Linked DNA regions of Homo sapiens: all the other regions are reported to be linked to region 2. Evidence: microRNA targets listed by miRTarBase, many of them from high-throughput screens and not tested one by one. Region 2 holds a microRNA gene; each other region holds the end of a gene's coding sequence.
Evidence for each region. Region 2 holds the annotated microRNA hsa-miR-671-5p (AGGAAGCCCUGGAGGGGCUGGAG, at 2,960-2,982, shown strand). A microRNA usually pairs through its seed, bases 2 to 8, with sites in the 3' UTR of a target mRNA and lowers its output. Matches are read on the target gene's strand: a 7mer-m8 pairs with bases 2 to 8, a 7mer-A1 pairs with bases 2 to 7 and ends in A, and an 8mer does both.

Region 1 (5,111 bases), not on the chromosome of region 2:
AGCCTTCAGTCATTTTGGTAACTTAAAAGTCCATGAAAGGATTCACACTGGAGAGAAGCCATATGAATGTAAGGAATGCAGGAAAGCATTCTCTTGGCTCACTTGCCTTCTGCGACATGAAAGAATTCACACTGGAAAGAAATCTTATGAATGTCAACAATGTGGTAAAGCCTTCACTCGTTCTCGTTTCCTTCGAGGACATGAAAAAACTCACACTGGAGAGAAGATGCATGAATGTAAGGAATGTGGGAAGGCACTGAGTTCTCTCAGTTCCTTGCATAGACATAAAAGGACTCACTGGAGAGATACTCTATAAATGTGGAAAAGCATTCATTAATTTTATTTCATTTCAGAAACGTGAAAGAAATCACATAGGAGATAAGCCTCATGAATGCAAACACATGGTAAAGCCTTAAGATGTTTCTTTTGAATATGGTTATCCCCTAACCATATGCAGGGGATTGGTTCCAGACCCCCTAAGCATACCTAAATCCACAGATGCTGTGTTCCTTTTATAAAAGGACATTTGCATGTAACCTATCCACATCCTCCTGCATCCCATAAATCATGCCTAGATTACTTAATTTTTCACCAACCCAAAGCTTTTGTAAAAGTAAAAATAAAAAGTAGGTTACTAAAATACCTCATGTGTTGTAAAAGCTATGTAAACAGTCATTTTATTGTATTTTTTTTAGAGAATCGTGATATGAAAATAATCCTGTGCTGTTGAGAACAGACCCAACCATCACAGGCCTGCCTACATAGTACATGTCACCTAGAATGTTACAGTTTCTTTTTTTCTTTTTTTTTTTTTTAAGACAGAGTTTCACTCTTATTGCCCAGGCTGGAGGGCAATGGCACAATCTCAGCTCACTGCATCCTCTGCCTCCCGGGTTCAAGCAATTCTCCTGTCTTAGCCTCCTGAGTAGCTGGGATTACAGATGCATGCCACCACACCCAGCTAATTTTTTTTTTTTTTTTTTTTTTTTTGTATTTTTAGTAGAGACGGGGTTTCATCATATTGGTCAGGCTGGTCTCGAACTCCTGACCTCAGATGATCTGCCTGCCTTGGTCTCCCAAAGTGCTGGGATTACAGGCATGAGCCTGTAATCTACAGTTTCTTTTTTTTCAACAATCATAGATTGCTTTTATTTAATGACCTGGAATCGTGTGTTAACACTTATGAAAATCCTGATCCTTCTTGCTTGATAACCCAAGGATGATGATGATGATCATGATCATGATGATGCTGATTACAGTATGGTGCCTAATATGATTCACTGAGGTGACTAGATGGGTGGCACTGTAGATAAACAGTGAGACATCAGGCTCACTTGAATCTTGACAGGATGTCAGGATGATCATCTGTGTTGGATGAACCAGGTTCTGATTGCAGATGCTGAGTTTGGAAGAGACTAAATAATACTAATGTCAGAATCTGTTCAGCATGAGGGCTGAAGATGTGTACACACTGAAGGATCTGTCTTCATATTTGCAGATATTTAGTTAGAAACATTGTTGTAGGAAGCTGGTTCTTTTTCTTTAAATATCCTTGCAGTGTTTGTTGGCATGTTATCCCTTGGGTGACACAGAGGTTTTGTTCCATTGAAGGATCTTACTTGAGGATGGCAATCTTTATTTTATTTTTATTTTTATTTATTTATTTATCATTTGAGACTGAGTTTCGTTCTTATTGCCCAGTCTGGAGTGCAGTGGCGCGATCTCGACTCACTGCAACCTCCACCTCCCAGATTCAAGCGATTCTCCTGCCTCAGCCTCCAGAGTAGCTGGGATTACAGGCACTCGCCACCATGCCTGGCTAATTTTTATTTTTAGTAGAGATGGGGTTTCACCATGTTGGTCAGGCTGGTCTCGAACTCCTGACCTCAGGTGATCCACCTGCCTCGGCCTCCCAAAGTGCTGAGATTACAGGCATGAGCCACCGTGCCCTGCGAGGATTGTAATCTTTAATACTTTTCACCTTGCAGAGGCTGTAGATGCCCCAAAAACTGCTGCACATGTTTCAAGTGTCACATCTTTGATATTACCTCTTCTAAGTCTTCTGCATCATCATTATCATCATTATCTGCAGAGAATTTCAGTATATCTTCGAGTTCCTTGTTAGTATTTATGCTCTCTTATTTGTGTTGGGATAGAAAGATTAAGGAAAGGAGAGATGAGAAGGTGGCTCAACAGTTGAGACAGTTTTATTGGGAGTAAACCTGAGAAGGGCTTCCAGCGGCAGGGTCAGGTGCAAACTTCTCTTACAGCCTGAGGCTTTTTTAAAGGGCCCAGTGGAGAAGTGTGCTTTGAAACAAAATTCTGTTAGGGAGGGGTTGGGGAAGTCCTGGCTGTTCTGTTACAGTTAGGGCCGTTATTCTCTGTTGAAGTTATGGGCGGGGCTGACATTTTCAGTTTTGGCCAGGTGGCCAAATAGAAACTTAAAGCTTAGGATGGTGGAGTGTTATAAAGATGGCGGTGCTCTTGTCCTGTCAATGTGTTCCTCAATAAAGTCTTCAAGCATGTCATAGATTGTTTTCCCCACCAACCTCCCTTGCAGCATTTGAGATATTCCTGATACTTCATCAATAGTGGAGAAGCTCCTGAAATCATTGACTTCCTCACTCCATAATGGTTTCCAACACCCAATGAAGTAGTAGGAGGAAAACATGGGTTTCTTCTCCTGGAAGCCTCCAGAAGAAGGTATTTCAATATGGGGAGAGTGGTCAGCTGTGTCACAGGTCACTGAGAATTTGAATAAGACAAGGAAAAAGGGTTGACTGTAGATTTTGGCAAGTATTTGGTCACTGGGGGCCTTGATAAGAGCTGTTTCATTGAAGTATTCATGAGAATAACTTGTAGTGAAATATATCTCAAATAGACCTCCACGATGTTGCCTAGAGGGCAGTGTTACCCTTTGAACTACCAACATTAACCACTGGAACTGCTCATCTGGAAGCCTCTTACAGTGCTGGTACAAACTAGAATACACAAAGGAAGGGATCATTTTATACGTGTTACTGTGCTACTTGCTCTATCTACTTAGTGTTCCATACATGTAATTACCTATTCCATCCTATCCCAAAGTACTGAAAATCTCCATTCTACTTTCTCTGTCTGTGAATTTGACTATTCATAGAGAGAGAGATATGTGGAAGTATGCATGTGTCCTTCCATGTCTGGCTTATTTCACTTAGAACGTTTTCAAGGTTTATCCATGTGGTAGCATGTATCAGGAACTCATTGTTTTTGTGTCTGAATAAATTTCCACTGTATGGTTAAAGCATACTTTGTTTATCCATTTTTATGTTGATAAACATGGGTTGTTTCCACAGTAATAATTTGACTGCTATCAATAAGGCTGCTGTGGATGTGGTATGTCTATGTCTGTGTGAGTCCCTGCTTTCAATTCTTTTGGATATATGTATCCCTAGGAGTGTAATTGCTGGTTCACAGAATAATTGGTGTAAACCTTTTTCAGGAACAGGTATATTGCTTTACAAAGTGGCTACAATGTTTTACATTCTCTCCAGCAATGCATAAGGGTTTCTATTTTCCACATTGTCACATATACTGGTTGTCGTATTTTTTTCATAATAGCCAATTAATGGTTCTGTACTGCTTTTTCATTGTGGTTTTGATTTGCATTTCCCTAATGACCAATAATAATGCACATTGGTTTTTGTTTTTGTTGGTTGTTTATATATTTTTTGAACCAGTTTGTTTTAAAATCCTTTGCTCATTAAAATTGAGTCATTTGTGTTTTGTTGTTGAGTTATAGGAATTCTTATTTAAAATTTTTAGTTTTTAATATTTAGAAAATTTCTTTCTTTTTTCAGCTCCCAAGTGCTTGGAAGAGAGTTGTAGGAATTCTTTATACACTGTGGGTATTAAGCCCTTATTTGATATGTGATATGCAGATGTGTTCTCCCTTTCTGTAGGTTTTCTTTTCATCTTGAGATTGTCCTTTGGTGCGCAAAAGTTTTTAATTTCGATGTAGTCCAGTTTATCTTTTATTGGTTGTCTGTGCCTTAAATGTCGTATCCAATAAATCACTGCCAAATTTAACAAAATTTTCCCCTATGTTTTCTGCTAAGTAATTTTTTTTTCTCCCTCTGTCACCCAGGCTGGAGTGCAGAGGCATGATCTTGACTTACTGCAACCTCCACCTCAGGTTCAAGTGATTCTCATGCCTCAGCCTCCCAAGTAGTCAAGTAGCTGGGATTATAGGCACCCACCACCACGCCTGTCTAAATTTTGTATTTTTAGTAGGGACAGAGTTTAACCATGTTGGCCAGGCTGGTCTCCAATTCCTGACCTCAAGTGATCTGCTCGGCCTCCCAAAGTGCTGGGATTACAGCCATGAGCCACTGTACCCAGGCTCTTCTAAGTATTTTATAGTTTTAGCTTTTAAGTATAGGTCTTTGATTAAATATAAGTTACTATTTATACATGATGTAATGTGATGGTTCACTTTTATTATTTGCATGTAGATATCCAGTTTTCCCAACACCATTTTTTGAAAGATTGTCCTTCTACCAAAGAACGGTCTTGGCACTGTTGTCAAAAATCATTTCACCCTGTATATGAGCATTTATTTCTAGGCTGTCTACTCTATTCCATTGGCCTATCTGTTTGTCTTTATGCCAGTACCATACTGTTTTGATCACTGTAGCTTTGTAGTAAGTTTTGAAATAAGGCAGTGTGAATTCTTCAACATTGTTCTTTTTCAAGATTGTTTTGGTATTAGAGATCCCTAGAGATTTGAAGTGAATTTTAGAATAGGCTTTTCTATTTCTGTATAAGAAGCTGTTAGGATTTCTATAGGGATCACATTGATTCTGTAGATTGATTTTGGTAGTATTTTAATCTTAGCAATAGTAAGTCTTGGAATCCATGAACATGGGATATCTTTCCATTCATTTATCTTCCTTAATTTGCTTCAAGAATGTTTTGTAGTTTTCAATGTACACATCACTGATTTCTTGGTTTCATTTATTTTTAAGTGTTTTACTTTTTTTGATGCTTTTATAACTAAAATTATTTTCTTAATTTTCTTTTTGGATTGTTTATTCATTGTTAGTCTATTGTTTATTCATTGTTAGCAGCTG
Region 2 (5,128 bases):
CTGCTTCGTCTGCGGCCACATCTGGATGGCTGCCGAGGAGACATTCTCAGTGCCCGTCCTGACGAGTGGCTTGGACGCTGCCTCATTGACTCTCTGGGCGTCGGCTGTGTCTCACAGCACCAGGTGACAGCTCTTTCAAGTCAGTCCCAGTCCCTGATAAGCTAGTGGGGGATGAGTGATTGGCCTTCCTCCCAGCAGCACCTTAGAGGCCATTGTTCCCCCTTCCTGGCCACTGGCCGCTCTGTGGGCCCTCCGTTGCTCACCTTTGGCAATCTGAGAACCTGGGGCTATCAAAAGTAGTATCTTGTTAGGAACCCCTAAGCAAGACCAAAGGGTGCTCCTACTCAGCAGTCCTTCTCCCCTGCCCCCCTGCCCTCCACACCTCCCCCGACATCCACACTTCAGTTATGGCAGTGTGGGCATGTCTTAGAGATGGCTAGTCTCCAGAGAAGTGAGGTGATCACTTTTCCAGCCCAGAGAGCTGCCCTGTTTCTTGTGCTGGAGAAGAGTGGAAGAACCCAGAGGTGGCTCATCCTCTCAAACCAAAGTATTGGGAGGATTTTCTGGCTTGTGTCATTCATTCCCTTGAAGAACAATGGGAATCTTTGGGGGAAGAAAGTATCATTATTATTATTTTTAATATGTTATTTCTGTGATGGCTCCTTGCAGAGCAGGGCTAGCCTGTAAGCAATGCACTGAGAGTAGCCGAGAGTGTCCTTAGTTGCCTACTTGCTTTCTACTTTCCAAAATGTGGGCAGTGAAAGAACTGGGGTTAAGCGAGGTGCTGGAAAGGGTGCCTCTTCTGTCCTCTGTTCTAACGCAGCAGTGCTAACAGATGTGAACACTGAGTATGGTTAAGGGCGGTTTGGGACTGGCAGCTCTTGTGTGTGTCATTGATTGGTCTGATTGTCCCTCTAGGGGCAGCAGTATCGCTCATTTGAACTGGCCAAAAATAGGGACCCTGAGAAGGAAGGGAGCTCGGCTTTCCTGAGTGCCTTCGCCGTGCACCCTGTCTCCGAAGGTACCCTCATGTACCGGCTCCACAAACGCTTCAGCGCTCTGGAGTTGGAGCGGGCTTACAGTGAAATAGAACAACTGCAGGTGAGCTGAAGAGGAGCAGGTGGGCAGAGGACCGCAGTCAGAGGGTCAGAGAGAGCCTGAGATGTCCAGGCGTGCAATGAACGAGCAGCTGGCAGTGGGGCTGGGCTAGGCCCTGTATAATGGCAGGGCAGGAAGAGGCCGACCATACTTAAATTTAAAGCAACTACAGGGACAAAGGTCTTTGGGGGTCCAAAGCAATCATAAGGTAAGCTCCCAGCACAACTTGAATGCAGCTAAAGGGGTTTGCAAGTAGACTCTGAGGATCAGGAAGCTCCGCACAGTGTTCAGACAGAATAGTTTTAGCTCCTCCTCAATAGTGCCTGTCCACTGAGGAGGCAAAAACTCTGAAGTTTCTTTACTTCTAGAACTGTCCCAAGAAAGCCCAAGGGTAGAAGGGAGAATTCTCAAGTTGAACGTCAGGCTTGGCAGAGGTGGAGTGTAGATGAAAACAAAGGTGTGATTATGAAGAGGATGTGAGTCCTTTGGGTGTAGGAGAGAAAGGCTGTTGAGCTTCTATTTCAAGATACTTTTACCTGTGCAAAAAGCACATTTTCCACCTCCTTCTCATGGCATTTGTGTAAGGTGAGTATGATTCCTATTCCATCTGCATTTTAGAGGTGAAGAATAACGTACAAGGGATTCAGTGATTAGCAAGGGACCCCTCACTAAGTGTTGATGGAGTTAGGACAGAGCTCAGCTGTTTGAATCTCAGAGCCCAGGCAGCTGGAGCTGGGTAGGATCCTGGAGCTGGCACTAATGTGAGGTGCATTCCCTCCAACCCAGGCTCAGATCCGGAACCTGACCGTGCTGACCCCCGAAGGGGAGGCAGGGCTGAGCTGGCCCGTTGGGCTCCCTGCTCCTTTCACACCACACTCTCGCTTTGAGGTGCTGGGCTGGGACTACTTCACAGAGCAGCACACCTTCTCCTGTGCAGATGGGGCTCCCAAGTGCCCACTACAGGGGGCTAGCAGGGCGGACGTGGGTGATGCGTTGGAGACTGCCCTGGAGCAGCTCAATCGGCGCTATCAGCCCCGCCTGCGCTTCCAGAAGCAGCGACTGCTCAACGGCTATCGGCGCTTCGACCCAGCACGGGGCATGGAGTACACCCTGGACCTGCTGTTGGAATGTGTGACACAGCGTGGGCACCGGCGGGCCCTGGCTCGCAGGGTCAGCCTGCTGCGGCCACTGAGCCGGGTGGAAATCCTACCTATGCCCTATGTCACTGAGGCCACCCGAGTGCAGCTGGTGCTGCCACTCCTGGTGGCTGAAGCTGCTGCAGCCCCGGCTTTCCTCGAGGCCTTTGCAGCCAATGTCCTGGAGCCACGAGAACATGCATTGCTCACCCTGTTGCTGGTCTACGGGCCACGAGAAGGTGGCCGTGGAGCTCCAGACCCATTTCTTGGGGTGAAGGCTGCAGCAGCGGAGTTAGAGCGACGGTACCCTGGGACGAGGCTGGCCTGGCTCGCTGTGCGAGCAGAGGCCCCTTCCCAGGTGCGACTCATGGACGTGGTCTCGAAGAAGCACCCTGTGGACACTCTCTTCTTCCTTACCACCGTGTGGACAAGGCCTGGGCCCGAAGTCCTCAACCGCTGTCGCATGAATGCCATCTCTGGCTGGCAGGCCTTCTTTCCAGTCCATTTCCAGGAGTTCAATCCTGCCCTGTCACCACAGAGATCACCCCCAGGGCCCCCGGGGGCTGGCCCTGACCCCCCCTCCCCTCCTGGTGCTGACCCCTCCCGGGGGGCTCCTATAGGGGGGAGATTTGACCGGCAGGCTTCTGCGGAGGGCTGCTTCTACAACGCTGACTACCTGGCGGCCCGAGCCCGGCTGGCAGGTGAACTGGCAGGCCAGGAAGAGGAGGAAGCCCTGGAGGGGCTGGAGGTGATGGATGTTTTCCTCCGGTTCTCAGGGCTCCACCTCTTTCGGGCCGTAGAGCCAGGGCTGGTGCAGAAGTTCTCCCTGCGAGACTGCAGCCCACGGCTCAGTGAAGAACTCTACCACCGCTGCCGCCTCAGCAACCTGGAGGGGCTAGGGGGCCGTGCCCAGCTGGCTATGGCTCTCTTTGAGCAGGAGCAGGCCAATAGCACTTAGCCCGCCTGGGGGCCCTAACCTCATTACCTTTCCTTTGTCTGCCTCAGCCCCAGGAAGGGCAAGGCAAGATGGTGGACAGATAGAGAATTGTTGCTGTATTTTTTAAATATGAAAATGTTATTAAACATGTCTTCTGCCAAACTGTTTTTAGGTCTAGGGAAAATTGAGTAAGGAGAAGAATCCAAGGGAAGGGAATGGGGAGTCGTCCCGAGGGACCCACTGCCTCCCCACCTTCTTCCCTTCCCCTTCTCTCCCCCTCCCCTCCCCAGTTTCCAATGACCACACGGCTGCTGTCAGATGAATGACTTTTAATCCAGCCCCACACCCCAAGGTGGCAGAGGAGTGATGCTGGAGCCCGGGGCAAAATGCTGGGGCCCGGGACACGGCTGAAAGTTCCGTCGTGCTGCTTATTTTTGGGCTCCTAGGTGTTGCGCACAACCAGCGACTGCTCCAGCTCCTGCCTGCGCTGCTGGATCTTTAGAGGAAGTGAGAACAGGAGCAGGTGTCAGTGTTCTGGTGAGTGATCAGGACAATCCCACCTACTGACACCGCCTGCCCTGAAAGAGCATCTGGGAGCAGGGAGGGCCATTGCATGGTGAGGCAGCGTGGTGAAGCTTTACTGTGGGGAGCTGCGAGGGCTGCCCACAAGCTGAACAGGGAGGTTTCTCTTGGAGTTGAGGATGGGGAAGCCTCAGGGCAAGGGTCCCTGCATACCTTGCAGTAGAAGTAGCGACTGACGGCCTCCTGGGACCAGGGCTGGTGGTAGAACTCAGCCCGGCGCTCCTCTTCAGGGTTGCCGGCTACATCTGTCATCACCTGGGAGGGAGCGTGGGGTGAGCCCTGAGCCCTGAATCCCCTCACCTGCCCCTGGAGTACAACGTTTACTCTCTTTCCCGCTGTGCTTGTCTTCCACTCCAGTACTCCCTGAGTCTCCCTCTTCACCTTGAGGTCCCGGCTCTGGGAGCGGAGCAGGTCTTGGACATAGCCTTTGGGGTCTCTGGAGAAGCTTAGCATGAAGTCCCTCTGGATCTTGAGCTGGTTTATGGACTCAATCGTCTCATGGATCTGCAGGTAGAAAGATAGATGCTTTCCACCTGGCTTTGGTGATGTGGGAGACGAGGGGAAAGGAAGCGGGTGGGAAGGGGAGGGAGAGGGGGTTTCTTCTGTGAAGGACAACCCCTCAGAGCCCCTGATTTCTCTGAAGTCCCAGGGGAGGAGGGGATGGGCAGAACTAAACTTGGAATGAGGTTCAGCTCCAAGCAGCATGGACGGGCCATGTGTGTCCCATTGGCCCAGAGTCTGGTCTCTTTTTTTTTTTTTTTTTTAATTTAACCCAGACTGCTCATCTGCAACCACACCCTGGTCTCAGAAAAGTCTCCTCTATCATCTCTGGGTTAATGTCCCACTCCAGCTCTGGGCTTGGGCCCCACCTTACTGTCCAGAGCACTGATCTCCTGCTGGTTGGCCGTGGATAGGAGGAAGCTGCTCATCTGCCCCTTTAATGGCTCCTCCACCTCCACGTCAATGTCATAGCACGCCGTCTTCTTCTGGTCTGAAGGGTCCACGCTGCCAGGGAAGTCCAGCCCTTCGTGTCCACGATGCCCCCATACGGCCCCAGGGCCCCGGGGCTGGGGCAGATCCAACAGGGAGGGAGAAGAGATGGGAGTGGGAGGAGAGGGAGGGGCAGGGAAGGCAGGAACGAGATCATTCCCTGGTCTGAGAAGCAAGCTGGGGCCACCTCACCTGATGACATGGTTGATGACAATTGGGTCAGGGGGCAATAGCAGGGCTGTGAGGCGCTGGGGAATCTCAGAAAACTTCAGCCGGGGACAATCAAAAATCTGAAGCAGGACAATTGGGGAGAGAGAGATCACTCTTCTTGAAGAGATCATCATGCAGTTGTAGATCCTTTTGTTCTAGAAAGGCCACAAGAAGC
Region 3 (5,128 bases), not on the chromosome of region 2:
AGCAGGTACAACAAACAAACAAACAAAAAACAAAAGAAATCATAGATTTGGAAATATGAAATTGACATAAGCAAAAGAAGTCTCTTAATAAATTCAATTCCATGGGTTTGTCTATGGACAGGTTTATAGCCCTGAAGACAGAAGGATGACACTAAGTGGTACTGGAAACTGGGAGTCAAGGTAAGTTTTTGGTTATAGAAAGTGTATTTTATTATTAGAGCAAATGGCAAATACATTCAAGGACATTGATGTTATAGGGGAAGAGTCTCAAGGGGGAAAAATGCTAATACAAGTATAAAACCAAATTGCTATTTATGAAGGTAAAGTTTGGTGCTGCCTCACTGTCAACTCTTTCCTTATACTCTAACTATAGTCTTGATAAAGTACTCAATATTCCCTCTACATGGAATAGTCTATTTGCCCAGTACACAAACACAAACACACACTAATACACACATACATGCACACACCATTGCCTTTCTTCTAGCTAATTTCTACATGTCTTTTAAGTCTTAGCTTATATGTTATTTCTTCCAGGAAACTTACTGAAACATCCCCAAGACCATATTAGGTGCCCTCTCTAATTCCCTGAACAATAACAATATGGGTCACTCTGTACAGTAATTACCTGTTCATCTGTTTGCTTTGTTCGTTAAACGCTAAGTTCCTTTTGGCAGGGAATAGCTTTGCCTTCATTATTGTTTCATTCTTAGGATTTAGCATAATTTCTGCCATAAAGTATATAGGTGCTTGATATAAATCTGTTAAAGTAACGTATACATTTTGCAATACAGAAAGCAATTTTTTTCGTCATTATTCCAATGTGTGTTCTTTTCCAAAATATATTTTCTAGAGTAAAACGAGTTCTAATTATTTCAAAGAGCAGTTAATTTGGATATGCAGATATTATTGCTTGCCCACTGTGGTAACCTTTAGGGCTGCTTGCAAATATCCTGGTTCTGTCACCTGCCCAGTGAAAAATGCACAGTAATGTGGAAGCTTCACGAACTATTGCATGATTCTCCCTGTCCCTTCCCCCTAATCATGGAAGCACCTGTTCCTGTTCCCTCACAATGGAAGAATGTTTAGAATGGAAGTCTCTGTCAGCCTGTGAACTCAAATGAGATGTGGAACAGATCCTTCAGCTAACCCCAATGGACAGGTCATGAGATCAAGAAATAAATCTCTAATGTTGTAGCATAACTAATCTGTCTTGACTAACATAATTTTATGACAGCTACTTCGGCTATCTCTTCTTTCTTACTATCAGAACTTGCCTCACTCTCTAGAAGCACAAAATACTAAATATTCTTTTTTCCAGCTTCCCTTGCAGGTAAGAGTAGCTGTGTGGCACAGTTCTGAACAAAGAAATAGAAGGAAAATTCAACTTGTGTTCTTACTATTTTCCACCTTCTAAAAGGGGATTATAAAGAGAACTCTCTCCTCCCATTTTGCTGCTGCATTCAATTATATGTAGACTTGAGGTAGCGATCTTTTAGCTAAGAGGATAAGCCTAAGAATTAAGTCAATATATTAAGAAGAGCCACTGAGTGGCTGCACCAAACCTGAATTTATCACTTCAAGACTTACTGCTATGTGAGGTTATAAATGTCTTTAGTGTTTGGATGGATGTTGATCAGGAATATTTTCTGAGTTACAGCTGAATGCATACTAACAAATTGCATAAGGAATGTGCAAATTTCCCTCTCCGATACCCTATCACTCTAAAATTTTGGAAGCCAATATAAACCAGCAAGTCAGGTTGGATACCCAGGAAGCAAGAGCATCATTTGGAAGAACTAAACACATGAGAAGTTCATCTAGTGATGAAACCTTTTGGCTAAAGATAGAATCCATGCGCTAATCTTAGAAAAAGACAGTAAGCTTGCTTACATTGGAGGAGAAGCATAAGAGGGCACATTAGAAAAGGACATTCATAAGTAAATTCATTCTTGGTCTTTTTGTTCAGAATTAGCGCATGAAACAATTTCATAGTTAGCTACCTGCCTAGGAAATTTTTTTGCCCAACTAGTAAAAAAGAGAAAGAAAATAAAAGAATTGTCAACCATACATGTGTTTTACCAGCAGTACATCTTCAGAAGTTAGAAAGGAACTGATAAAGAAGTGGTTCCCTTGTGCTTCAGTGGTTATTTACAAGTCATTTGTATCACTTTCCAACCTAACTTACATGTAATCTACCACCTTTTGTTCCACCTCTTTTTTTAAAAAAGTGTTCGTTTGTCTACATTACCTTTCATTAGACAATACTTTTATGAGTGTAATTCTTAATTTATTATTAAATAATCCATTGAATATTGACAATTTTACACAGTACTCATCAAAAAATCTAGACCTGGAAAAGAGATTATTCAGTGCTTTTCAAAGAAGTCAAAAAATCCTTAAAACCAGAGTAGGCAGGGTACAGCAAATAAAATGCAGACATTTTAACATGAGAAACAAAATCTCCAAAATTGTTCTCCTACCTACCCAATCTGCCATATTCCACTTTTTCCACCAATTTCAGGAGTTTCTGCCACATGGTTTGGCTCCAGTGAGCCAGTCCCTGCAGCATCCACAGACATGAATTGGATCTGTGTTTTTATATCAACAGATAAGTTCAATTACTTCATGATATTCTTTTATGCACAGGTAAAGAACTGATATTGATAATCCAGGAATTTGGTTTTATTTTTACACATGAACTGCGAACATAGAACTGCATGCCCTAGAAGAAATGACAGCTGGTGAGAAAATAGGTTTCTGTGCGTTATCTGGAGCCAAGAGTGCTAGGTGCAGTAGGATCAGTAGATGATACAGTGGCCACCTTGGTACAGTTGCCAGTGAGCTATCAGGAATCACAAGTAGATTTGAGGAAAGCTTCAATAGAAGGAATAGAGGTAGTGGAAACTGATTCATGAACCCTTCTGAGTAATAACAAATACTTTAAAAAACCATATCATAAGTTCTAATATAATTTTCTTGTCTGGAATCAGCTACTTTCAGGATCACTTGTTCTTTTAGGCTTCTGAACTTTTACACTGAAGACTGTGGCATCATCAGAAAAAAGATCACAACACTTGGAATCCCTGATTACCTAATCCTCCAGCAGTTAATGCCCAAGGAAACAGCCTCTAGGATACCAATTCATCAAAAAGTGTTCCAGGTTCATTCTAATTCAATAAATTATGTTGAGATTAAGTTATACATAATAGATGTTAATACTACCATTATGAATATTGTTATTATTTTCAAACCTCAAAGTTTATTTTTAAAATACAGATTGATTTTTTTCCCTAAAATGCTAAAGCTTTTACATACATACAAAAGTATGACCTGGGGTTTGGAAATTTGCTTTGCAGTCTGGGAGGTTGTAGTTAACTTAAAGAATTTTAAATGCAATTAGTACTTTCAGACAATCGATGTCAGACTGTCATATCTTATTCTTTGGGGTATGAAGCAAGGTATTTTACAATGCCCAAAAATAACTTTCAAAATAGTATTTAGCAAACTGTCTGGAGCCTCTTTCCCCCCAAATTAGAGTATCCAACACAGATGATACACAAGATATAACTTGAAGATTACTGATTTTTTAAATGCTTCCCCAGAATTTACATATTAAATCGATTATTTTCTCCTTCATAATAGTTACCTTTTGACACTTACACATTCACCCCAAGTACAAATTCACTAATTATCAAGGCCTAGGCACTATTATAATTCTGGGCATATAAATCTTAAATATTCTATGATTGAATGGGTCCATGAGTGAGTGAGTGAGCAAATGGTAAAAGAACAGATAAATTAATTTAGAACCTCTGCTTTGAGGAGTGCTTTCCCAGCCAGTAATATTTTTAATATCTACACTAATGGCAAAACTTTCTGGTTTGGGGTGAATTTGATTAATGAAAAGAGTCAAAAAATCATTTGGAATAAGTCTTGGGAGTAAGAGACACAATCCAGTGGGATAAGGACACTTAGGAAAACACAAGGCATGATCAAAATATTGGAAGTCTGACTTTCTCATAATTGTGTCCTGAAGGCAATTCCAGAAATGATTTGAGCATCCACAGCGGCTCTGAACTAGGCATGTTAACTCCAGAATGACTGCTTAGAAAGACTATGTTATTTTGAATGAAGGAAAACTGACATGCTGATTTTCTGTTTCTCTAATTAGGCTCATACATTCATGGTCAAGGTTTATATCATATTTTGTAAATGTGATTAGAAGAAAAGACCATTTTTCTTATATGTAAGATGAAGGGTAAGACTAGATGATTTCTATAAATTTTCCCAGTACTAATATTCAGTAATTCTATATATAAATAAATAATTTAAACATTGTTCACATTAGTGAGCCATTCTCACTAATATTTCAGAGGTTTTATATTGAAGGGACTCTCCTTTAAACAACCCCAAGACTTCAAGGGAAATCATGCTTTAGGCTGTAGACCACAAGATATATGGCTGCTGGAGCAAGATATATGGGACAAACCTCTCTCTCTCTCTCTCTCTCTCTCTCTCTCTCTCACACACACACACACACACACACACACACACACACACACACACACCCCTCCACCCCATTAGCAGTAAACTATCTGTCCCCAAACAGGGACGATTATAGAAGTCAACATGGTAGTTCACTAGTTCACATTCATTTGAAATCACTTATATAATGTGTAGAGAGTAAAGCTGTTCTTTAAATGATCTATCAACTTTTCACTAAATAGTTACAACTTCAAAAGCCGGGGAAGTGCCTTCAAATGAAAGTATGACAGCAGGCTTCAGAATGTCCTGCTTCCGATTGTGTCCAAAATATCTTATTCTGTAGATTCCAGGCTGGGCAGTGTCTGGAATATGCCATTCCACTGTTGCATTACTCAGACCCAGGAGTCCCTTGTGCCAATAAAAACTGTTGATAAAAAACAAACAAGCAAGCAAAACTCAATTTTACTCTTAAAAATGTTTAATTAGAAAAATACATGATTATTCATTTAATGAATATTCAGAGAATACCTACAATGAGCAAGGCACTATCAAGACATTGAAGATACAGCAATGAACAAAACAGACAAAAACGTCTATTTTCTAGAAGAGAAACTTTAAAGAACAGCAATTTGTAGAAACA
Region 4 (5,115 bases), not on the chromosome of region 2:
TGCGGTATCCCAATCACAGACACAGGCCGGATGGGGAGCCGCTTGGTGGGCATCATCTCCTCCAGGGACATTGATTTTCTCAAAGAGGAGGAACATGACTGTTTCTTGGAAGAGGTGGGTGCCACTGGCAGAGTAGATCCAAGCTCTAGCAGCCCAGGTTGAAGACAAGGGGCTTCTGTTGTCTAAGACATCTCTGATAGCCTCTTCTCTCTGGGAAAGGAGTGTCAAACCAAGTTTCTGACTCCTTTATTGGGTTCCTGCATCCTTTCCCCACCAGAGGCTTTCAAACTGCCCAAATGCTTGCTAGTATTCATGCTTTGTTCTTTTAAACCCCTAAGGTAGGGGCAGTGCTTGAGGTCTGCCCTGATTTTCTTGCCATTGTTCCTGTGTTGTCCTCCTTATTCCATAGTGTAAGAGGGTGCTCCCTGTGCCATGTTGTCCTTTCTACTCATCCCTCACTCAATACCATACTGCTAAGAATTATTGGGATCCCTTGAGGAAGGGTGTTTTGGGTGTGAATGTATGAACGTGGTGGTCCATAGAACTTCACCCCTGTAATCTCAGTACTTTGGGAGACTGAGGCAGGCAAATCATGAGGTTAGGAGTTTGAGACCAGCCTGGCCAACATGGTGAAACCCCGTCTCTACTAAAAATACAAAAAATTAGTTGGGTGTGGTGGCGCGTGCCTCTGAGCTCAGCTACTTGGGAAGGAAAGAAAAGAGTTAACTGGTCATAGTCGATGACTGGCCCTTCTTCACATCTCACCTCCCACGTAGATAATGACAAAGAGGGAAGACTTGGTGGTAGCCCCTGCAGGCATCACACTGAAGGAGGCAAATGAAATTCTGCAGCGCAGCAAGAAGGGTAAGTCCTAGAGCTGGGAAAGGGCCTGGAACTAATGCCTAGGGTCCTGATTCATGTCCTGCCCTGACCACAGGAAAGTTGCCCATTGTAAATGAAGATGATGAGCTTGTGGCCATCATTGCCCGGACAGACCTGAAGAAGAATCGGGACTACCCACTAGCCTCCAAAGATGCCAAGAAACAGCTGCTGTGTGGGGCAGCCATTGGCACTCATGAGGATGACAAGTATAGGCTGGACTTGCTCGCCCAGGCTGGTGTGGATGTAGTGGTTTTGGTGAGCTGCTACACAGGTGGGTTGGGGCAATAGGGGCAGCTGCCACATCACAGTCTGAGACTTACTTCTTGTCCTAGGACTCTTCCCAGGGAAATTCCATCTTCCAGATCAATATGATCAAGTACATCAAAGACAAATACCCTAATCTCCAAGTCATTGGAGGCAATGGTAAGGCAAGATTGTGCCCTGAAGGATGTGTGGTGGGAGTGGGTAAGCTGGGCTCCCACCTTAACCTTCACATGAGCATTTTCCTTTCCTTCACCATAGTGGTCACTGCTGCCCAGGCCAAGAACCTCATTGATGCAGGTGTGGATGCCCTGCGGGTGGGCATGGGAAGTGGCTCCATCTGCATTACGCAGGAAGGTAAGAATATACTTTGATAGGGCCCACAGAGACCCCAGTTTCAGGCCCCACATACCTTGGAACCAAGCACTCTTATGGGGACAATAGAGCCCTCCAATAGGGGCAACCCTGGGGCCAAATTGGCCTCTTGGATGGGTGACATGGCTGGAAGCAAGACAAGGTCTTGTCATCCATCACCTGCCACTCCCTTGCCTAGCCTGGCCTTCTTGCTCCTGCTCTGCACCTTCTCTAAACTCTGGTCTGTTTGTTTTATTTAGTGGCTCCCAAGATCCCTCCAGACATAAAGTCCCACAGCCCCAAATGCCCTTCTACTGTCACGGGTTGCTATAGTAAGTCCAGCCCGGCCCACTGGCCCGGCCCAGCTGCCCACTGCCCGGCTGCTTGGTTGACGTAGCTGTAGCTCCCGGGGTTTGTGGTGCTGATGGGTGGGCAAGGCCAACTGATACACAGACCATGGTTTGGGGGTGGTGCTCAAGAACATAGCTCCCTCTTCCTTCTGGGGTGCTGATAGGGCAGGACCTTCTTCCCTAGGCAGGACCTTTTCTGCCCACATCTTCTGCAGTAGGCATAGTTCAGGGACCAACTCCTTTGTGTGGTCCTTGCTCTCCCACACAACCACTGCCTGCTCCACACAACCACAGCCTGCTCTCCTACACAACCACTGCCCTTATCTTGCCTGAGCTGCCCACCATTCAGGGAGGAAGGGCTGGGCCTGACCTCAGTGCCTCTGGGGACTAACTGCACGGTGACTCCTGCCCCATCTGATACCAGCTGGACGGGGGCTTTCCCGGCTGCTAAGACTGCATGTGCCTGAGGCTGCCCTGGGCACTGCACACATGCACGTGCACATGTGGGGGTGAGTAGAGGTCAGCACAGCTGTTTGTACTATTTAAGGCAGATGTGGCAGCAGCCATCCCAGACACGTCTGTTCCTCAGCCAAGCTGCAGTCCTGATGCAGATGTAGCCAAAAGCTCCTGGGTCCTAAATATGGCCACAGGGTCCACTGCCCGTCCCCATTAACCCTATCCACCCATGTGTTCCTCCATCTCAACAGTGCTGGCCTGTGGGCGGCCCCAAGCAACAGCAGTGTACAAGGTGTCAGAGTATGCACGGCGCTTTGGTGTTCCGGTCATTGCTGATGGAGGAATCCAAAATGTGGGTCATATTGCGAAAGCCTTGGCCCTTGGGGCCTCCACAGGTGAGGCCCAGTACCCGTGAAGGCCAGTGGGACCCCCTCCCTAGTGCTGCTTAGGCTCTAACCCAAGCACTCCATCTGTCCGCAGTCATGATGGGCTCTCTCCTGGCTGCCACCACTGAGGCCCCTGGTGAATACTTCTTTTCCGATGGGATCCGGCTAAAGAAATATCGCGGTATGGGTTCTCTCGATGCCATGGACAAGCACCTCAGCAGCCAGAACAGATATTTCAGGTGGGACAGGCAAGCCAGTTACCCCACCCTAATCCTGCACTGACAGTCTCATCTCTGCTGTGACCTTGCCCGTGTCTCTGCCTCTCCCTGCAGTGAAGCTGACAAAATCAAAGTGGCCCAGGGAGTGTCTGGTGCTGTGCAGGACAAAGGGTCAATCCACAAATTTGTCCCTTACCTGATTGCTGGCATCCAACACTCATGCCAGGACATTGGTGCCAAGAGCTTGACCCAAGTCCGGTGAGCTTGGGGAGCTGGGACATGGGTAGAGGGGCTGGTCCAGGGCCAGCTACCCACATTTGACCTCTGCCCTTCTTCAGAGCCATGATGTACTCTGGGGAGCTTAAGTTTGAGAAGAGAACGTCCTCAGCCCAGGTGGAAGGTGGCGTCCATAGCCTCCATTCGTAAGTCACCCTGTCCTTGGTGGGGCCTCTGCCATACCTCATGCCTCCTTTCTCCTGCCCTCACCTCACAGGTGGTCCTTCTGCCTGCAGGTATGAGAAGCGGCTTTTCTGAAAAGGGATCCAGCACACCTCCTCGGTTTTTTTTTCAATAAAAGTTTAGAAAGAAAAAAGTGATGCCTGATCTTTCAACAGACAGGTGGGGCTCTGTAGCTGCCACTACCACAGATGCACACAAAAACAGCACCCTCATTTCCAGGGGGAGCCTCAGGCCCCGAGATAAATGTGCTCCATGGACCTGGAAGCGGGTAGTTCCAGGTCCAAAAAGTTCCTCCTGAGGCTGCTCACAAAACAGCTGACTATAGCTATAGCTATGGCTCTTGGGGTTTCAGTCTCACACTGAGCATCTGACTCTGGCTCCCAAGGGGTCAAAGAACAAGCCCTGGGACTGGCATACACAGGGCATCCTGCTAGCCCATAGCTTGGCCATATAGGACCAGGTCAACACACATATATATTCCCTAACTTGAATCTCTCTCGGCCAGGCACATTGGCTCACGTCTGTAATCCCAGCACTTTGGGAGGCAGGTGGATCACTTGAGATCAGGAGTTCGAGACCATCCTGGCCAACATGGTGAACCCTTTCTCTACTAAAAATACAAAAATTAGCTGGGCGTGGTGATGCATACCTCTAGTCCCAGCTACTCAGGAGGCTGAGGCAGGAGAATCACTGAAACCCAGGAGGCGGAGGTTGCAGTGAGCTGAGACTGCGCCACTGCACTCCACCCTGGCGAAAGAGCAAGACTCATCTCCAGAAAAAAAAAAAAAAAAAAAAGCCCAGTGTAGTGGTAGGGGCCTCTAATTCCAGCTACTCAGGAGGCTGAGGCACGAGAATCGCTTGAATCCAGGAGGTGGAGGTTGTAGTGGGCCAAGATCACGCCACTGCACTGCAGCCCGGGCGACAGCGAGACTCCATCTCAAAAAAAGAAAAACAATCAGCGATTTTGTGAGAAAAGCCGTTGAGGTCCTCTCAAATCTGCATGTGAGCAAGTAGGTCTACAACAGGCAAACATACTGCTTCCCGACTTCTGAAAAGTCAAGGAATCCTAAGTAATCTAGATGAAAAAGTGACTCCTTGGTTTCTTCACATTCCCCTCCAAGAGCCCAGTGAGCCATCAGCTCCTGGCCAGCAACACACCTGATACAAAATGGGAGAAGTGTATAAATTATTATGTTGATAAGCAAGATAAGTGCCAAAGGGTAGATAAGAGTGAAAGCATTGGGAAGCCTGGCAGAGTGCAGTCAGCAGGTCAGTTCCTGGCGGTTCATTGAGCAGCTTGGCCCAAAGATGTAAGTGAAGTCCCTCCTGGTGGAGGGATGAGAGCAGCTCCAGTTACTCGGCCTTCATGACACAGGAAGTTGAAGGTGGCACAGGCATTGGGCTGCAAAGAAAAGGCCAGCATCAGCCTGTCTAGCGCCAGGCCTGTGCTCCCCGCAGCATGCCCCAGTCCCGGGACTCACCGTGTCCTGCACTTCCACAGCAATGCCCCGCTGCCTCATGGCTTGAAGCACCTGGGACTGCAGCCTCTCGGTCCGGTCTCCAGTCCCCACCACCACGATCTCTAGGGAAGGGTGGGTGTGGCTAGTCTACAGTTCTGTTGAGAGGCTGCAGTGGGGGTCGCCTTCTGGGGCCCAGAACACCTCTGTTCTCCCTCCCCTTCCCCAGTACCTATCCGGGGCTCCAGCAACCAGAAGAGGGAAAAGCTGTCTTCGGTGATGTCCTGGTGGG
Region 5 (5,000 bases), not on the chromosome of region 2:
CTGGTTTGCACCCAGTGGCCCTCACCTCTCTTCCCAGCATCCTCTGGGGTTGCCTGCGATGGTTCTACTCCTTCCTCTGGAGCATTCGCTTCCTAAGGACAAACCCTGGGCATCGGTCACCCCTTCATGCACAGGTCGGTGACCGAGTACCTCCATGTGCCTGGCCTGTGGCTGGCTGTTCACTAGTGAACCATACTGTCAGGCCCATTTATTCCCGCCAAGAAGGTGCTCAGGAGATGTTTGCCGGACACATAGGTGCTTCCCGCAGACGGAGTCATCCTAACCCGTTACTCCCAAGCATCTCAAGTGCTCCAGGTAACACTTACACCTAACCTAAAGGAAGGCACTGCGATCAGGGGGAATTTCAGGCCTGGCCTGGGCTGAGATGAGGGATGCCACTTGCAGACAGCCCTGGCCCGCAGCCCTAATTTTGTCCTCAATGGACACCTGCTGTAGCAGCCCTCTGGGCATAGTGCCGCTCACAACTTCCGGTCATTAATCCTTATTCTCTCTCTTCCCCACCCCACCCTCCTCCACCCTGCAGGCAGCAAAAGAGACCTTGGCCAAAGCTGTGCTGGCGGAGCTGCCCCAACAAGTTGTGCAGTATTTCAAGCATAAAAACCTGCCCCCCACCAACTCGGAGCCCGCCTGAGCTCCAGTGCCCAGCAGCAGCATGTCAGCTGAGCCTCCTGCCCTCCCCCAGGAACATGCACGCTCACTCTGCTTCCTTGTGGGTGGCCTTTTTTTACCGATCCCCTTTTTTATTTTTTACAACCGGACCTCCACCCCCAACTTCCTCCAGCCCAGCTGGGCTTCCTTTGTTGGAGTCAACTGTTGATGCTTCCAGGCCAAACTGGCTTCCTCTCCTCCTCTCCCCACCTTTGCCATTCTTAAGTATTGAATGTACTTTGTATAATTTTAGTGGAATTGTTATTGAGAATAAAATTTTTACAATCATAACTGGCTTTTTCCAAGTAACTAGCTGCAGACTCTGATGAAAGAAACATGTCCTTGGTGCATACGTGTCGTAGCCTGCACCTAATTAATTCCTGCTGTTTTTTTAATACTGTGACTGTGTTCTATTTGTTATATGCTCAGGGTAACAAATGAGTTTCAGACGTCCCTGCGTCAGCTCCTTCCTCAGCAGGGACCTGACGGGCTCACTGATCTAAGAAAGGAAATGGAAAATGAAAATCCACCCCACAAGTCTAATAAGTTGGTGTAGTCACTTCTGCATGGGGACATGCATTCCAGATGATAACCTGTTAAATCACTGCCAGTTAACAGTGATAACCTGTTAAACTGGCACAGAACCTGGCACATTGTACAAACTCAATAAATATTCATGGATGAATAGAATGAATGTGCAGGCCCATACCAGTTTCTGACATATCCCTACCCCACAACTGGACAGCAGTCCCAGCCACCCATCTGCTCCTCCTTGGGTCTCCCGGGTGTTTGGGTTGGCCACCTAGAGGTCTGTGAAAGCCTCTCTGGCCTCAGGACCCAAAATGGGGCTGCTTCTGACCCTGCTGTTTCTTCCACATCCCCCTCTCTAGGCTCAGGCCCAGTTTTATGAAACCAGCCAGAGGACCCCTCTCTGAAAGTTCAGCCCCGCTCCCAGGTCCCTCCTTTATTCCACATAACACCTCTTTCTCCTTTATCCACCTGACTCCCGCTTGGACCTCCAGGTAAGCCCCCTGGACACGGGCTTCCGTGTAACCAGTAACAGCTAACCCTCCTATTAAGCACTTTGTTTCCAGCTCCGTGTTCAGTATTTTGCAGGCACTTTTTCTGAGACAGGGTCTCACTCTGTCCCACCCAGGCTGGAGTGCAGTGGTGTGATCTCGGCTCACTGCAGCCTCAACCTTGTGGGCTCAAGCAGTCCTCCCACCTCAGCCTCACGAGTAGCTGGAACACAGGCATGCACCCCCACGCCCAGCTAATTTTTGTAGACATGGAGTTTCGCCATGTTGCCCAGGCTGCAAGCACTATCTTGGTGAACCCTTCCAATAGCTCCTGACGGTGACCATTTCAGAGATGAGGAGACAAGCAGAGAAGCGAATCAAGTCTACTAGAGGCAGAGCCAGGCCTCATACCCAAGTCTGGCTACCTCATGGCCCACACTTGCTCCACTGCATTGAATGCCTTCCCTTGGCTCTGGATGGGGTTCTTCTGCTCAAGCTGCTAATGAATTTGTCACTCTGTGCCACTGAAATTGGAAAGTCATTTGTCCCCATCTACTCTTCTGGCCAGTAATTCTTACTAGGGCCTGCTAGGATTGGGCACCGCAGCAGGTAGATTCCCACCTCTTAGTGCCTGGTAAGCTCCAGCCAGAGTTTTTCTGGTGGGAGCAAGTAAGGGATACCTTCATCCTAAGCTTCTGGTGCCGCTGCTGATTCTGTGGACACCAAGAGTCAGCTGAAGGATCTGTTAGGGACACTTCTCTCAAGAGGGCCGCAGGACTGCACAGAGCTCTGATTTGCAGACTGTCCTTTGGAAAACTCCAGTGCACTGGCCCCCAGGCCAGCAACATGGGTGGAATCCCACTCCTCCCTTACACCTTCCCGTGGGAGCGGCTTACGAGCTTGGTGAAACTAGGGAGACTGCCGTCCACTGGGCCACGTGAAGGCGAAGCCCTGGCCTTGCAGTGGGGGTCTGTCCCACATGCTCCCACTCTCAGATCACTTCCTCAGGTGTGGTGGCCGTGGTCCCCACATCCAGGCTTCATGTGGGGGCAGATCCAGCCATCTCTGCTGTCTGCCCCTTCTCTGCCTAACGGTGGGTAAGTCAAGCAGGCCCTTTATTCCTAGCTGGCTTCAGTTCACAAACTTGTCTAAACTCTTGTCTAAAGAGTTTGTCTAAACTCTTGACAAGGCCAACCAAATCACTTTTTATTTTCTTATTTTTGAGACAGAGTCTCACTCTGTCACCCAGGCTGGAGTGCAGTGGCACAATCTCAGCTCACTTAGCCTCCGCCTCCTGGGTTCAAGTGATTCTCCTGCCTCAGCCTCCCAAGTAGTTGGAACTACAGGCGCACGCCACCTTGCCTGACTAATTTTTGTATTTTTAGTAGAGATGGAATTTCACCATGTTGGTCAGGCTGTTCTCGAACTCCTGACCTCAAGTGATCCACCTGCCTCGGCCTCCCAAAGTGCTAGGATTACAGACATGAGTCACGGCGCCTGGCTCCAAATCACTTTTGTAAAAATCCAAGCTTTGGTGCTGCTACTTGGTTCCTGCACATGGATAGCAGGCTGAAAAGTGAACTTGGAAATCCAGCCAGAAAGACTCCTTTACCCTTGAATCCCTTCCACGGAGGCCTGGGCACTGGCATTTGTTTAGAAGTTTCACTGAAACCACAGAAAGCCAGACTTAAAGGCTCAAATGAAAATTCTGGTTCAAATGAAAATTCTGGTTCTGTCACTTAGCTATGCAACCTCAGACAAGCCATTGAGCTCCTAGGAATTCTGATTTCCTGTAAAATATAGAGAAGGGCTGCTTCACAGGACTTTTTTCCCCCAGAATGAAAGACACTAGAGTCCACAAAAATAACGCACAAATGCCCCTAACACCCTGGCATATACATAGCAAGCTCTCAGTATACACTGAATGAAAGAAACCAACACAAGCAATGATGTACATGACTATTACTAAAATAGTAATGGAAGACCAGCTTGCAGTATAAAGCACAGGTGAATGGCTGTCCCTCTGTTTTTCTGCCTCTCCCCTCTGCAAAGCTCTGATGCTGGGGCCATGTTCTGCCGTTACCACTGTGAGGCTCCCTCTCTCTCCGAACCGCTGCTCCAGCAGGTAAGGGAGCAAAATGTCAGCCCTTGCCAGTGTCACTAAAGCACAAATGTGTGACTGGTTTCTGTGTTCAACCTGTGACTACAAAAGTGTTGCCAAGATCCTAGCCTCCCACTGAGCAGAACTTGCATTCCATCCTGTGACGCCTAAGTGGGTTGGGCATGCCAGAAAACCAAGAAAATACCCAAGTCCAGATAATCTGCACTGCCATGGAGCTGTTTTTCTGGAGGGGCCTAAGATGACAGCTGAGCCATATACCCACGGCTAGGACAACCGCGCCAAGGAACCGGGTGTGCCTAAGCAATTAACATTTAGCCAAAAGGGAAGCATACAGCAAAAGCTGGTGGTTGGAGCTTTGACGACCAGATCTGACCCTTCACCCATGCCAGTGTTCTAGCTGCAACTGAGGAATGCCAGTGGAATGGATAAACCTGCATAAATCACCAATAATGGAAGCTCTGGCTATGCCACCCAGAAAAAAGGGAGGGCTGATGGTAACAGCACTGAGGGTGGCCACCATTTACTAAACACTGTGTGTCTGATACCGCACACCTAGCACCTAATCTAGGTTATCTCTATCTCCCTAGGAAATTGGTAGTGTTATTCCTATTTACCAAGGAGGAAAGTGAGGTCCAGAGAGGTCACACTAACCTTGCCCAAGTGACACAGCTAGTCACAGCTGGCTCCTAACTCATAACCACTATGGTGGAACTAGGCTGAGTTCCCAGGGAGGAGCAGCAGAAACAGTGGGGAAGGGCTTAGGCAAATGAAGCTCCTCTCTTGGGTGGGAAGGAGGAAGCCAGACAGGAAGAACTCAGGAGCTAGAGTGAAAGAAATGAGGATGCCTGGCACTAAGTCACCCGACTTAGGGCCTCCTGACTCCCAGTCCAGAATGATTCTGAAAAAAGCTGAAGCCCCCCTCCGCCCCACCCCTCTGGATTTGGGGAGCCAGCTCTCAGTCTCTTGCATCCTTAGATTCAGGGAAGATATACACAAGTAGGTAGCCAGCCACCTTTTTCGGTCTAGTCGTATCAGTTTCCCTGGTTTTTACAGATGGAAAAATAGACGCTTTGAATATCACACTCATTTTCCACCCAGGTGGGTGACACAAGCTAGATAATCCTCCCCATATAGAGGTGGCAGTAGGATTCCTATTAGCTTTCTCCCTCACATGGCTGGAGAATTGTAAG

Region 1: miRTarBase lists ZNF442 as a target of hsa-miR-671-5p. Seed matches in the 3' UTR shown: 8mer at 2,231-2,238.
Region 3: the mRNA of ASAH2 is a reported target of hsa-miR-671-5p. The part of its 3' UTR that is shown has no 7-base or 8-base seed match.
Region 4: the mRNA of NDUFAF3 is a reported target of hsa-miR-671-5p. Seed matches in the 3' UTR shown: 7mer-m8 at 4,609-4,615.
Region 5: miRTarBase lists CPNE2 as a target of hsa-miR-671-5p. Seed matches in the 3' UTR shown: 7mer-m8 at 811-817, 7mer-A1 at 840-846 and 7mer-m8 at 856-862.

Annotation. Positions count from the first base shown.
Region 1 is chr19:12,344,906-12,350,016 of GRCh38, reverse strand. ZNF442 (zinc finger protein 442) reads left to right here. Exons shown (of 6, transcript NM_030824.3): 6 at 1-4,073. The coding sequence ends at 316. It also overlaps a transcript of ZNF563 not described here. Among named protein-coding and RNA genes, the nearest start is that of ZNF563, 14 kb to the right of the region's middle.
Region 2 is chr7:151,235,490-151,240,617 of GRCh38, forward strand. It overlaps MIR671 (microRNA 671), which reads left to right and starts at 2,932; the gene lies at 2,932-3,049. It overlaps CHPF2 (chondroitin polymerizing factor 2), which reads left to right. Exons shown (of 4, transcript NM_019015.3): 2 at 1-123; 3 at 919-1,101; 4 at 1,885-3,333. The coding sequence ends at 3,192. SMARCD3 (SWI/SNF related BAF chromatin remodeling complex subunit D3) reads right to left here. Exons shown (of 13, transcript NM_001003801.2): 9 at 4,936-5,033; 10 at 4,623-4,758; 11 at 4,135-4,257; 12 at 3,907-4,008; 13 at 3,291-3,667. The coding sequence ends at 3,614. It overlaps LOC124901779 (a long non-coding RNA gene), which reads left to right and starts at 4,172. Exons shown (of 2, transcript XR_007060596.1): 1 at 4,172-4,263; 2 at 4,530-5,128. RefSeq lists enhancers at 1-362, 4,062-5,128.
Region 3 is chr10:50,182,593-50,187,720 of GRCh38, forward strand. It overlaps ASAH2 (N-acylsphingosine amidohydrolase 2), which reads right to left. Exons shown (of 21, transcript NM_019893.4): 21 at 2,269-4,912. The coding sequence ends at 4,723. Among named protein-coding and RNA genes, the nearest start is that of ASAH2, 66 kb to the right of the region's middle.
Region 4 is chr3:49,022,709-49,027,823 of GRCh38, reverse strand. NDUFAF3 (NADH:ubiquinone oxidoreductase complex assembly factor 3) reads right to left here. Exons shown (of 5, transcript NM_199069.2): 3 at 5,056-5,115; 4 at 4,848-4,948; 5 at 4,329-4,768. The coding sequence ends at 4,652. IMPDH2 (inosine monophosphate dehydrogenase 2) reads left to right here. Exons shown (of 14, transcript NM_000884.3): 5 at 1-114; 6 at 777-864; 7 at 938-1,137; 8 at 1,215-1,305; 9 at 1,405-1,500; 10 at 2,555-2,698; 11 at 2,784-2,928; 12 at 3,022-3,165; 13 at 3,246-3,329; 14 at 3,420-3,499. The coding sequence ends at 3,441. Among named protein-coding and RNA genes, the nearest start is that of NDUFAF3, 3.1 kb to the right of the region's middle. RefSeq lists a silencer at 2,417-2,556.
Region 5 is chr16:57,147,007-57,152,006 of GRCh38, forward strand. It overlaps CPNE2 (copine 2), which reads left to right. Exons shown (of 16, transcript NM_152727.6): 16 at 545-1,363. The coding sequence ends at 652. Among named protein-coding and RNA genes, the nearest start is that of PSME3IP1, 37 kb to the right of the region's middle. RefSeq lists a silencer at 691-985 and an enhancer at 2,927-3,716.